2 separate regions of the Homo sapiens genome follow, and region 2 is linked to region 1. Evidence: fine-mapped expression QTL. A gene starts in region 1. The other region holds a variant in brackets. All regions are shown on one strand. Distances are between the middles of the regions. Region 1 holds the start of MAFA (MAF bZIP transcription factor A). Region 2 holds the start of MAFA-AS1 (MAFA antisense RNA 1).

Region 1 (2,889 bases):
GCTCTGGAGTTGGCACTTCTCGCTCTCCAGAATGTGCCGCTGCTGCACCCGCTTGAAGCGGCAGGACTGCGCGTAGCCGCGGTTCTTGAGCGTGCGCCGCTTCTGCTTGAGCCGGATGACCTCCTCCTTGCTGAAGCCGCGGAGCTGCCGGTTCAGCTCGCGCACCGACATGGACACCAGCTGGTCGTCGGAGAAGCGCTCCTCCAGGCGCACGTGGTGGCCCGCGCCACCGCCGTGTCCCGCGCCGCCATGGTGGTGGTGGTGGTGGTGGTGGTGGTGGGCGGCGTGGTGATGGTGGGCGGCGTGGTGCGCGCCGTGGTGGTGGCCGGCGCCCATGTCGTCCGCTCCGCCGCCGCCCGCGAAGCCCGGGCCGCGGAAAGCCTCGTAGGCTGCGGCGGCCGCCGGGTGGTGCGCGCCGTGGTGCGCGCCGTGGTGGCCGCTGCCGATGAGCGCCTCCACCGCGTCCTCGGGCGTCAGGTTGAGCGCCTCGGGGTTGAGGTGATGCTGGTAGCCGCTCATCCAGTACAGATCCTCCAGCGCCGGCTTCCCCGAGGTGCCCCCGACGGCGCCGGGGCCCCCGCTCGGCGGCCCGGGGGCGCCCCCGGCCTGAGACGAGCCGCCGCCGCCCCCCGCGCCGCCGCCGCCGCCGGTGCCCGGGCTGGGCGCGCAGAAGCTGGGCGAGGAGGGCACGGAGGAGCAGGGCGTGCTGAGCGGCGTCGAGGACAGCGAGCCTGGCGGCAGGCGGTGGCAGAAGCGCTCGGCCTCGGGAGGCTCCTTCTTCACCTCGAACTTCATCAGGTCGAAGTCGTTGACGTACTCGATGGCCAGCGGGCTGCTGGGCAGCTCGGCGCCCATCGCCAGCTCCGCGGCCATCGCCCGGGGCCCGCGCCCGGCCGCGCCCCGACGGGCGGCGTGGGAGTGGGGGGGGAGCTGCAGGCCTCTCCCCCCCCTGCTCCCCGCGGGCGGCGGTCCCGGCGGGGGCGGGGGGGCGCCGGCGCGGGGCGGCGGCGCCGAGGGGCGCAGGGAAAAGTTTCACGTGGTCAACTCCGGGGCGGCGCGCTAGGGGCACCGCTGGCCAGGTGTCTCGGGCGACCCCGGGCCCGCGTCGCCGCCTCCTCCCCGCGGCCGCCGCCTCGGGCTGCTCCGGGACCGCTCCCGCGCCCCACCCGCGCCGCCGGCCGGCCCCGCCTCCCACGGCTAAACGCGAAGCCGCGCGCGCCCCTTTATAGAGCCGGGTGCCTGGGCCCGCCTCCCCGGGAGGGGCGCGCGCCCCCGGGCCAATCGGAGCCCCAGCCCCGCCGCCCTCATTTGCTTATCCCCATGGCAACTCAGAGCCCAGCTGTCAATCTCCTGCGGGAAACAGCTGTGGGAAGAGGTAGGGACGGGCCGCCGGCTAGAGGAGAGGGCAGGGCCCTCTGGTGGCCATCACGGGGCACTGCACGGGCAGAGGGCGCGCCGCCTCAGGGGACAACTGCCGTCTCCAGGGGCCTCAGCTCCCACACCCGGCGGCCGGAGAGTCCGGGGAAGCAGACGGGGACCGCGCCCGGGGACCCCCTCGGGGCCTCGTCCGCCTCGGGCCACGCGGCGGGACGCCCCCTCGGCCCCCTGGGTTTGCGGCCGGGCCTGGGGGCCGGGGGCAGCTCCGCTAGCGGCGGCGGCGGCGGCAGCGGGACCTCCGGGCCTCTGGACACGGGTGACACCGCGCGGCCCGGCAGAGCGCGGCGCGCTGAGCCGGTTATTTTTAGCCCGCGGCTCAGACGCGTTCAGGAATTTGGTCAACAAAGTTGCCGGCACCTCCGGGCACCGGGAAGCACGGGGCGGGCGGAGGGGGACACACGCGTGCGGGGCGGCGCGAGGGGCCGGGGACGGAGGGCCGGCTTGTGGGGGGCCGCGGAGAGCGCAGGACTGTGGGGGTCGCGGGACAACGCGGGTGGGTGCGAGCGGCGGGGGCGGGGCCCACGGGCTGGCAGCCCCTCAGGGCGTTAGGAATCCCCGCCCAAGCGGCCACCACTGCCCACTTTCGCCCCCCGCAGGGCTGGAGGCGCCTTGCTGGGCCTGGAGTGGGACGGGGGGTAACTGAGACGGGAAGGCGGGGATTTCCACCTGGCGGCCGTGCACCTGCTGGGAGGAGACGGCTCCGGTTCACGGGGCAAAGGAGGTGACGATGGGCGGTGGGCCTGTGACCCCAGGTCCCCGACACCAGCGAGCCGGGTGATGGGAGGGTTGCGCCAGGAGTTACAAGGCCGGTGACCCGAAGTGGGCCTATTGTTTCTTCTCGAAATTCTCTCCATTGCTGTTCTATGACTTCAGCAATTTAAAAAAAAAAAAAAAAAGTCTAAAATGTAACCACCTGTGTAGAGAAAAAAAGCCTGGAAGGAGTTGCGCAGAGGCCACAGGGAGGCCTGGTCACGGCGCCGCAGATTTAGTACCAGGCTCTCACCTCCTTCCCTCTACAAAGATCTATTGTTTTGTAACAAGAAGACTGTCATGAAGTGAGGACTGAACATCTGCTTCCTAAGGTGTCTCGGGGTGTCCCTGGCCCTTCCCTGGGCCCTCCCACTCCTCTGGGCAGAGCTGGGACTGCTGATTTGGGAAGACCAGGCCTTCCTCCCCGCAAGGGAGGGCCAAGGACAGCATGAGGACCCACCTGCAGGGACCCCTCTCCCCCGATCCTGTCCCAGAGGGGGCTCTGAGCTCCCCACCCTTCTACAGATGAAGAAATGAAGTGGGCATGCAGCAGAGCCAAGTCCCCACACTGGGTACCTGGACTTGAGACCACACGAGTGGTCAGCCAGCCAGGGGTGTGGGGTTTCCTTTATGGCACCCCGTGTTGAGAGGGAGGCCCGGGAAGGGAGGATGCCGCCGCGCAGTGGAGCTGGTGGTAGTCCA
Region 2 (2,889 bases), 23 kb before region 1:
TGCAGGCCCTTCTGCAGCCACACCCCAGGGACCTCAGCCTCCTGACCGCTCCTGCTTGCCAGCCGCCAAGACAGCTGCACCCCAGCCCTTACTCCCTCAACTCCCTGGCCCTGCGTGGCCCCGGCCAGCCTGAGTGCTTTCCACTTCACGCTGCCCATGCCACCATCTCCTCTTCCAAGGACTGGGGCGATGTGCCCCTGTGGGCTCCCACCCCCACCTCTACCCACAGCACGCGGCCTGGTGAGACGTGAGGCTCAAGGCCTCCCACAGCAGCCAGGAGGGAGGGCTGGGGCCCCTCCCCTTCAGCCAGGGGACCTGGTAGGCTGGCCTGGCCTCCCCCGCAGGACCCGGGTGGAAGGGAACTCTGCCCAGGGCGTGCTCCCCACAGTGGTCCTCAGGGACAGTGGAGGAGGCCGCCTTCTCACAGGCTTCCTCTCCAACCCCAGGCAGCCTCAGCTATTCCCAAGAGGCTCTCCTGGGTCCGCATCCAAAAGCTTCCTCAGCCCACAACCCCTGGAGAAGGCAGAGGTAGGAGGGAAGGCTGGAGGACCCCTGCTCTGCACAACCAAGCTCTGCCCTGCCTGCCTCAGGCTGGCCTGGGCACTGATGCCACTCAGAGCCGAGGACATCAGGGCCTGGAATCTCCGCCTGGTAGGTCATGCCCCTTCCTGGTAAGGGGACCAGGGGTGATCACACACCCGAGTGGGGCTGGCCACCACCCCAGGGGCAAAGCCACTGTCCCGGGTCTCCCGCCCTGTGCCGGGCCCCACTGCAGCCATGCACGAGCTGCCTGTGCCCCCCACGCCCCATCACAGGCTCTGCTGCTGGCCGGGCAGAAACTAAGAGGGGCCCTGGGGTCCTGGCACCCACAGCCTGAGGGGAAGGCCGGTACCAGCCCGGCCCACAGGGTGGAATCAGGGTGCTGGTCCCTCGCTGAGTGAGGGGTCCTCCCCGAAAGACTGCCTGACTCAGGCCCAGTCTACCAGGCTGTGCCACTGACCCTCCCCAGGGACCCGTCTAGGCGGCAGGGACTCCCCAGGCCCAACCCAAGCCATCTTTCCCTGCGGGGCGTCGTCCTGCTGGGTGCTCAGTTGGCGTCTCCCTGGCGAGGGGCCCCAGGACTCTTGACAA[G/A]GAGAGCTCAGTGGCTGGTGGTTCAGGCATGAGGGTGTCCGTTGGGGGCAGGCCTTCTCACCCTCTCAGGAGGTCCCAGGCTTCTCACCCTGTGCCCGCATTTCTCGCTTCTGCTCTCGCCTCCCCCTCGCCCACCCTCGCTGTTGTCCCCCTTGTACCCCGCAGGAGCAGACCCCGCGCACGTGCACTGGCCGCCCGGGGACCCCTAGCCGGGCAACTGCGGGGAGACAGCTGTGCCCGCGCGCGGTACCCCCGCCCCACCCTCCAGGTCGGGGCAGCCCCGGGCACCGACGGTGGCAGTCGGCGTGTCACCTCTCCTGCCATCCGCAGGGCGCAGCGGGCACGTGGCCCCTCCAGATAAGCAGAGCCCGGGGCCCCAACTCGCTTCCTCATGGCGGGCGGGGGGCAGCCCCAGGCGGCGCCATCTGACGCCCCCGCCCTGCGCGCTCCTACCCCCCACGTCCGCTGCCGTCTGTCGGTCGTGGAGCCGCGCTAGGCCACGGGGTCCCGGCCAGACGGGAGCGCCAGCCCCTCCCCCTGTCCCGATGTCCCCAAACCCAGGCTCAGCCCCTCCCTCCCCGACCCGATGACACCCCTGGGTCCTAGAATGCTGCTGGGGGCGGGAGACCGGAGAAGAAGCAGGTGCACGGGGAGGTGGGTGTCCTGCCCTCTGCGAGGAGCCCACCCCCTGGACCTTCTCCTAGCGCTAAGATCGGGTTCAAGCACCAAACCCGTCCCGCCTCGCCCAGGTCCCCGGCCGGTCCCCGCCCTGCCCCTTCCTGCCACGGCCCCTGCCCCGATCTGCCCCGCCCCTTCCGGCTCCGCCCCTCCGGCCTCGGCCCCGCCCCTTCCCGGTCCCGTCCCTCCGACATCGGCCCCACCCATTCCCCGCCCACCCTTTCCCTTCCCGGCCCCTGCCCCGCCCTGTCGTGTCCGCCTCTGCACTGGGATTCCTCCAGCCCCAGCAAGTCCCTCAGGTGGTCCCAGCCTCTGTGTCCGCCTCTGCTCTCCCAGAGCGCCTCAGGCAGAGCAGCCAGGATGGGGACCAGGCCCGCCTTACCGGGAATGAGCCTGTCACCTGCTCCTCCCACCCCGCAGCAGGTACGTCTGTCATCAGCACCCACCTTACAGCTGAGGTCACTGAGGCTCAGCGAGCGCGTGGCCAATCTACAGGGCCCCTCTTCTCTCCTCCAGGGAAAAGAGGGTGCGGTCCTACTGCCGCCTGGTGACCCAGGCCTGGCTGGGATGGAGACCGGGGCTGGTGGGCTGGACGAGAGTGGCAGGAGGTCTCTCCAGACAGTCCCCAACCCCCAGGCTCCCCACCTATCCCCAGGCTTCCCTCCGTCAGCCTTCCCACCCCCTAGCCCCTCTCCTCACCCCACGAGCCTGTTGGGGAGGGGCCGCTCAGAGGAGAAGGACTCCCAGGGTGTGGGGTCTGGCCATGCTCACCTGCCTCTCACCTGATGCCATGTTCAGGTTCCCGTGGACCTGTGGCTGCTTGGAGAGGCCGGGGGTCACAGATGGCGCCAGGACACTGTGGTGAGGAGTGAGTGTGCTGCCCTGGGGGCAGAGCCTGGACAGGGCCAGTGGCTGGAGGCTCCAGGACACACTCTGCCCCAGGAGGCTGCCCGGAGAGGGCCTGAGGCCCAGCTCCCAGGACGCTAGGCTGTCCTTGGGCAGGGATGCTGAGGGGTGTGTGACAGAGGAGAGAGCCCAGCATGGGGAGGGGTGACCAGGCCTGAGAGTCACAGAAGGACA

The links. PIP is the estimated chance that this variant, and not a neighbour inherited with it, causes the effect. A credible set is the group of variants that fine-mapping cannot tell apart.
Region 2: its variant is the best candidate, but not a certain one, in a credible set for the expression of MAFA in whole blood (INTERVAL, PIP 0.88).

What each region holds. Positions count from the first base shown.
Region 1 is chr8:143,429,534-143,432,422 of GRCh38, forward strand. MAFA (MAF bZIP transcription factor A) reads right to left here and starts at 1,199. Exons shown (of 1, transcript NM_201589.4): 1 at 1-1,199. The coding sequence starts at 873. RefSeq lists a silencer at 1,116-1,555.
Region 2 is chr8:143,406,138-143,409,026 of GRCh38, forward strand. MAFA-AS1 (MAFA antisense RNA 1) reads left to right here and starts at 2,056. Exons shown (of 3, transcript NR_186795.1): 1 at 2,056-2,232. RefSeq lists an enhancer at 1-475 and silencers at 1,499-1,818, 1,859-2,058. The variant G/A (reference allele first, on the strand shown) is at 1,132.